Linked DNA regions of Homo sapiens: region 1 is linked to region 2. Evidence: fine-mapped QTL for protein levels in blood plasma. Region 2 holds a variant in brackets. A gene starts in the other region. All regions are shown on their reverse strands. Region 1 holds the start of PTPRF (protein tyrosine phosphatase receptor type F). Region 2 overlaps DOK7 (docking protein 7).

What was found. A credible set is the group of variants that fine-mapping cannot tell apart. PIP is the chance, under the fine-mapping model, that this variant and not a neighbour inherited with it causes the effect. Protein levels are from antibody-based Olink assays in UK Biobank. Linkage for the fine-mapping came from a reference panel and not from the study's own genotypes, which makes the PIPs less certain.
Region 1: PTPRF starts here. The variant in region 2 is the best candidate, but not a certain one, in a credible set for the plasma level of the PTPRF protein (UK Biobank, PIP 0.51).

Annotation. Positions count from the first base shown.
Region 1 is chr1:43,529,638-43,532,526 of GRCh38, reverse strand. PTPRF (protein tyrosine phosphatase receptor type F) reads right to left here and starts at 1,644. Exons shown (of 34, transcript NM_002840.5): 1 at 1,437-1,644. RefSeq lists an enhancer at 226-798 and a silencer at 864-933.
Region 2 is chr4:3,467,651-3,470,539 of GRCh38, reverse strand. All of the region lies in intron 2 of DOK7 (docking protein 7), which reads right to left. Among named protein-coding and RNA genes, the nearest start is that of DOK7, 5.8 kb to the right of the region's middle. RefSeq lists an enhancer at 2,255-2,862. The variant T/ACT (reference allele first, on the strand shown) is at 1,477.

The DNA.
Region 1 (2,889 bases), not on the chromosome of region 2:
GCCTCTCACCCCAGTGCACTTCCCTGCTTCTCAGGCCAGATCCGACACCAGATCGCTCTGGATCCCTGCCCCTGTTCCTTCAAAAGTGGAGCCTTCCTCAACCTAATCCAGCCTCCCGGCCCTGCCCTGTGGCCCCTCAGGGAGATCCAGACAACCCCCAGGCTGGGGCAGCCTCCCTCTCCCATTTCACAGCTCAGGCAGGTAGCGCTCCCCACCCCCAACCTGCTCCAACTCAGGGGCCGTGCACTGGGGGGCAGGGGGGCTTGAAATGGGGAGAAAGTCTAGCCCCTCCCCCTCCGGGGTGGAAGAACCAGAGGGGCAGCATTCCAGGGAAATGGGGGGGCGCCTAGCACAGAGAGTGCAGAGACACCAAGAGATGGGTGAGAGACAAGAGGCAGAGACTTAAGGAGGGAGACAGAGACCCAGGGAGAGGAAATAGAGAGACCCAAGCGGAGAGAACAGACTCAGGGACAGGGAACAAGACGACCCAGGGAGACAGAATCGAGAGACCTGGGGAGAAAGAACAGAGTGACCTGGGGAAAAAGAATGGAGACAGCTGGAGAGACCCTGGGATTGCAGGGGCGTGAGATTGGGAGGCACTGACACGGGGAGGCAGAGACGCCGAGGAAAACAGAAAGCAGCCGAGACAGAGACGCCGGCACGGCGATGGGGAGCCGGGACGGGACGGGACGGGACGCGGGGCGGCCACTGAGTGAACTTTCGGAGAGGGTCCGAGTGGCCACGTCCTCACGGGACAGGTCGCTCCAGGGCCTCCAGGGCGTTGCACCCGGTTGGGGGCGGGTACAGCCCGTTCGGCCCCTCCCCATCCCGTGCTCGCGAACGAAGGGGGTGGGGGGGCTTCAAACTCGCGCCCGGCGCAGCCCGGGACCGCACGTGCGCCGGGGCCGCGAGCGAGACCCGGGCGCGCCGGCTGCGGATCCCCCGCCGGCTGGGAGGGGGCGCCTGTGCGGCGGGGGCGGGGGCGCGGCCTGGACCCGCCCGGAGCCCGGGGCTGGGGGGTCTGAGGGCCGCCCCCGGAGCGCGTCCGCGCTAGAAGGGGGGACGAGGCGGGACCGATGAGGGGGAGCAAGAACGCAAACGGGAAACTTTGCGCTGGGTGGGGGGGGCGGGCTGCGGCTAAGGTGCGGTGGAGAGGGAGGGAGGCGGCGAGGGGCGGCGGGGAGCGAGCCAGCCAGCAGCGCTGGGGGCGCGTCTGCCGCGGGGTGAGCGGGGAGGAGCCGCCAGGCTGGGGCGTGGAGGGGGGGCTTCGCCGAGGCTGCGGGCGCGGCAGGTGGGGGCGCGGCCCGGCCTCAGCGGCGCCCTCGTCCCCCCCGGGACCGCCCCCAGCTCCGCCGGGTGGACTAGCGGGGAGGGCAAGGAGAGCGGGGAAGGGACGGGAGCGGAGGGGGCTGGTGGGGGGCCGGGGGGTCACTCACCGCCTATCCAGGGGCCGTCGGTCCGCATGTCCCCCCGCAAGCCGCTAGGGCCGCTGCTCCCACTCCTCTGCCGCCGCCGCCTCCACCTGGTCCCGCTCCCGCCACCGCCACCCGAGCTGGAGCCGGAGCCGGAGCCGGAGCCGGAGCCCGAGCCCGAGCCGGAGCCGAAGCTGGAGCCGCCGCCTCTGCCGCCGCCACCGCTCCCGCCGCTCCCGCGCCAGCTCCAGCCGCGCGCTCCCCTCGCGCTCGCGCCCGCGCCCCTGCCCCTGCCGTGCGCGCCCCCGGCGGCGCCCCTCCCCTCGTGCACTCTCGCTCGTAGAGCCGCGGAGCCGCTGAGGCCCAGACAGGCCACAACCCAACGCCAAGTCGAAACCGACCGGAACCTCAATATTGAACCCGAACCCCAATAATGAACATAGACAGACCAAACTCTGATACTACATCCAGATCCTTCTAGTGGCTCCCAGCCCTAGCATGAACCTAATACCACTCTAGGACCCCATTTCCTCCCCATACAGATCTGAACCTGATACTGAGCCCACACCTTGCCCTAAACCCAATATTGAGTCCAAAGCCCTTAATCTGCCCCCAAATTAGCACAAGTAGTAATTTTGTTGTGAACCTCTATACTGATCCCAAATACCAATTCTGACTCTAAATCTCTTTATTACTTCTACTTGCCCTAACCTTGATAGTGACGCTAGCACCAACGCTGGACCTTAAATGGAACCCTGTACTAATGCTCAGCCCCCAGTCCCTAAATGAACCCTAAAGTCCAAAAGCTACCTTGCTATGGACCCCAGTTATCTCTCTTCTGAACCCCAAGCCTTACATAAAACTCCAGTACTGCTCTCCCATTCCCAGATCAACACCAATGCACTCTGAATTCGATTCTCAATTCCAGAGTTGGGATTGGGTCACCATAAAAGGACCCCCAAACACAGATACTGACCTGAAACCCCACCCAAACTTGAGACCATTTAGGACCCTAAACCAACCCAGCTTTAATAATAATCTTGGAACCCAAGATAAGACTGGCTTTGCAGAAACTCCACACAAAGCCCCTTCATCCTCATGTTCACCCTCCACTTCTCTGACCTAGTGTCAACCCCAAGCAGAGACTGACTAATACCCCAATATTATACCAATTCCAGCTGTGAACCTTACATTGGCCTCGGAATTAAAGACATGATAATGCCCTCTAAATGTAATTTAAATGTCAGTACTGAGTTTCTGACTTCTCATACCAAACTCAAATAATGACCCTAGAAATTTCTGGGTGAAACCAATAACCTACCTGAAGATTTATTCCAAGACCTACTGATCAGAGGGATTTGATGAGCTTCAATCCAAGCGCCCCTGCCTCCAGACCCCGCCCCCACGCAATCCGTGTTAAAACCACTTAAGAGTCAGCCAAAGCCACACCAGCTCTTTCCTATCTACCCCACCCCTC
Region 2 (2,889 bases):
GGGGCGCATGCTGAACCCACGCTCGACCCTCAGACCTCTTTCTGATTCACGGACGCCACCCCTCGGCCTGTCTGACTTTTCTGGACTCTGTCTACAAATGCAGACTCACATCCTGCACCTTGGGAACGCCTGAAAATCCAGGAGCACTTACAGGCAGGGGCTGAGCGTGGCCCCCAGCAAGACGTGTCCACTCCCGACCCCGGAACCTGTATGTCCTTATTTGGGAACAGGGTTTCTGCATATGTAATCGAGTTCAGGATCCTGGATTGTCTGAACGCAGCAGCAAGTGTCCTTGTAAGGGGGAGAACAGGAGGCGCAGACACAGGGAAGGTCACCTGAATGGGGACGGAGGCAGGGACTGGAGCGCTGAGGCCACAGCCAAGGGACACCTGTGTCTAACAGGAGCTGGGAGAGGCAGGAAGGAGCCCCTCTGGGAAGCCTGGAGGGAGCGTGGCCCTACGGGCCCCTCGACTGCAGAGCTCTAACTCCCAGGACTCAGTGGGTGAATTCTCATTGTTTGAAGGCCCAGCTGTGGTGCTTTCTTCTGTCGGCCACAGGAAACTGACGACCACCCAAACCACCGATTTCATTTTCAAACATGAACAGAAGCCGAGAGGTCAGAGCTGGGGGCCCGCTCGTCCCTCCTGCCTGGCAGAAGCTTCTCCGGCAGCTGACGCCCACCCCCTCACGCTCAGGCCGCCCTCTCCTCATCACCAACAATAAATCGATCCTGTTTTTAAAGTGCATCTCTCGGGGAGTGCCAGGGGGCAAAGCGCTGCAGGAACTGGTACCAGAGAGATGGAAGCTCCAGGCCCAGGGCTGAGACCAAGCCAGGTCAAGGCCGGGACACCAGAGCCCCAGGACGCAGCGGCTCTCCCTGGGACACAGCACGTGTGCCGGGTAGACACAGGTCTGGGGGACTCAGGAGTGGATGGCCACTGGCCAGCTCCCCGGGCGCCAGGCCCAGAGGGCCCCAGCCACACCCTCCCAGGAGGCCTGGGCACCTGGGAGTCTCTCACCCAGCGGCTGAGGAAGCACCATCGGCCCTGCTCACCCACCCTCCGGCTGGGGGTCTCTTGCCTGGCGGCTGAGGAACCACCATCAGCCCTGCCCACCCACCCTCTGGCTGCGGGCATTGGCTGCAACCTGGCCAGGGAAGGCTTTTGCAGAACTTGGAGGGTTCCCGGGGCTCTGGCAGGCAGCACTGGGCTGGGTGGAGGGCACCGGGTCGTGATGCTGAAAGGAGACAAACGAGGAAGAGGCACCAGGAGAGGCCAAGGCACAGAGACCATGTGGAACAAGCAGGCACACACGCACACTCACACAGAGGCACACACACTCATACATGCACACTCACACAGACGCACACACACACATGCACACTCATACACAGACACATACACGCACACACACAATGTGTGCACACATACATGCACGCACACACAGGCACACACATGTACACTCAGGCACACACAC[T/ACT]AATGCACACACAGACATGCACACTCATACACATACACAGGCACACACACTCATACACGCACACTCACACATGCATACACAGGCACACGTACACTCATACAGGCACCACACTCACACGTGCACAAAAGCACGCACACTCATACACACATACACACACAGACATGCACACATACACAGGCACACTCGTACACAGGCATGCACACTCATACGCGCACACACATACACGCACACACACACTCCATGCATACACACACAGGCACACACAGACATACATGATCACAGGCACACATACATGCACACACACACGCACACAGACACATACACAGGCAGACATACAGGCACGCACACATACACACACATACACAGACATACATGCACACACAGGCATGCACACAGGCACACACACTCATACATGCACACACACAGGCATATACACACGCACACACAAAGGCACGCACACACCAATACACGCACACTCAGACAAGCACACACATTCATACATGCTCACACAGGCACACACACATACACTCACAGTCACACACACTCATACACGCACACACGCACATGCACACTCATACATGTACACAGAGGCACACATACATGCACACACAGGCACACACTCGTACATGTACATTCACACAGGCACACACACTGCTGCATGCCCATGCAGACACCGGCACACACTTGCACACACAGACACACGCACACAGACAAGCATTTGAGCTCACACACACTCGCACACACAGGTATTCACACGCATGTGCACACGTGCACACACACTCCCACAGGTATTCACATGCACGCGGACACACACTTGCACACATACACCCCCACACAGGTATTCACATGCACACACACACACTTGTGCACACACACCCCCACACACAGGTATTCACATGCACACACACACTTGCATACACACCTGCACACACAGGTATTCACATGCACACACACGTGGACACAGTCATGCACTTGCACTCATGCTTGTGCACACACAGAAGCGTGCACTCATGCACTCAGTGCTGGGGTCTGAATCTGAAATTCCAGTGTTGAAATCTTCACCCCCAAGGCGATGGGTTAGTGGTGGGGCCTTTGGGATGCGATGAGGTCATCAGGGTGGAGCCTCAAGAATGGGACCAGTACCTGATGAGGGGGCCCCAGGGCGCTTCCTCCCCCTACACCATATAAGGACAGAGAAAGCGCCACCTATGCAGCAGGACATGGTCCTCACGAGACACCCAGGACGCGGATCCTCACCAGACACCCAGGCTGCCTTGATCTTGGACCTCCAGCCCCCAGAACCGTGAGCAGTGACTGGCTGTCGTCTGAGCCGCCCAGGCTGTGGCATTCGCTAAGAGCCGCCTGAGCTAAGACAGCCACACAAGCCCACACTCACACATTCACTCTTACACA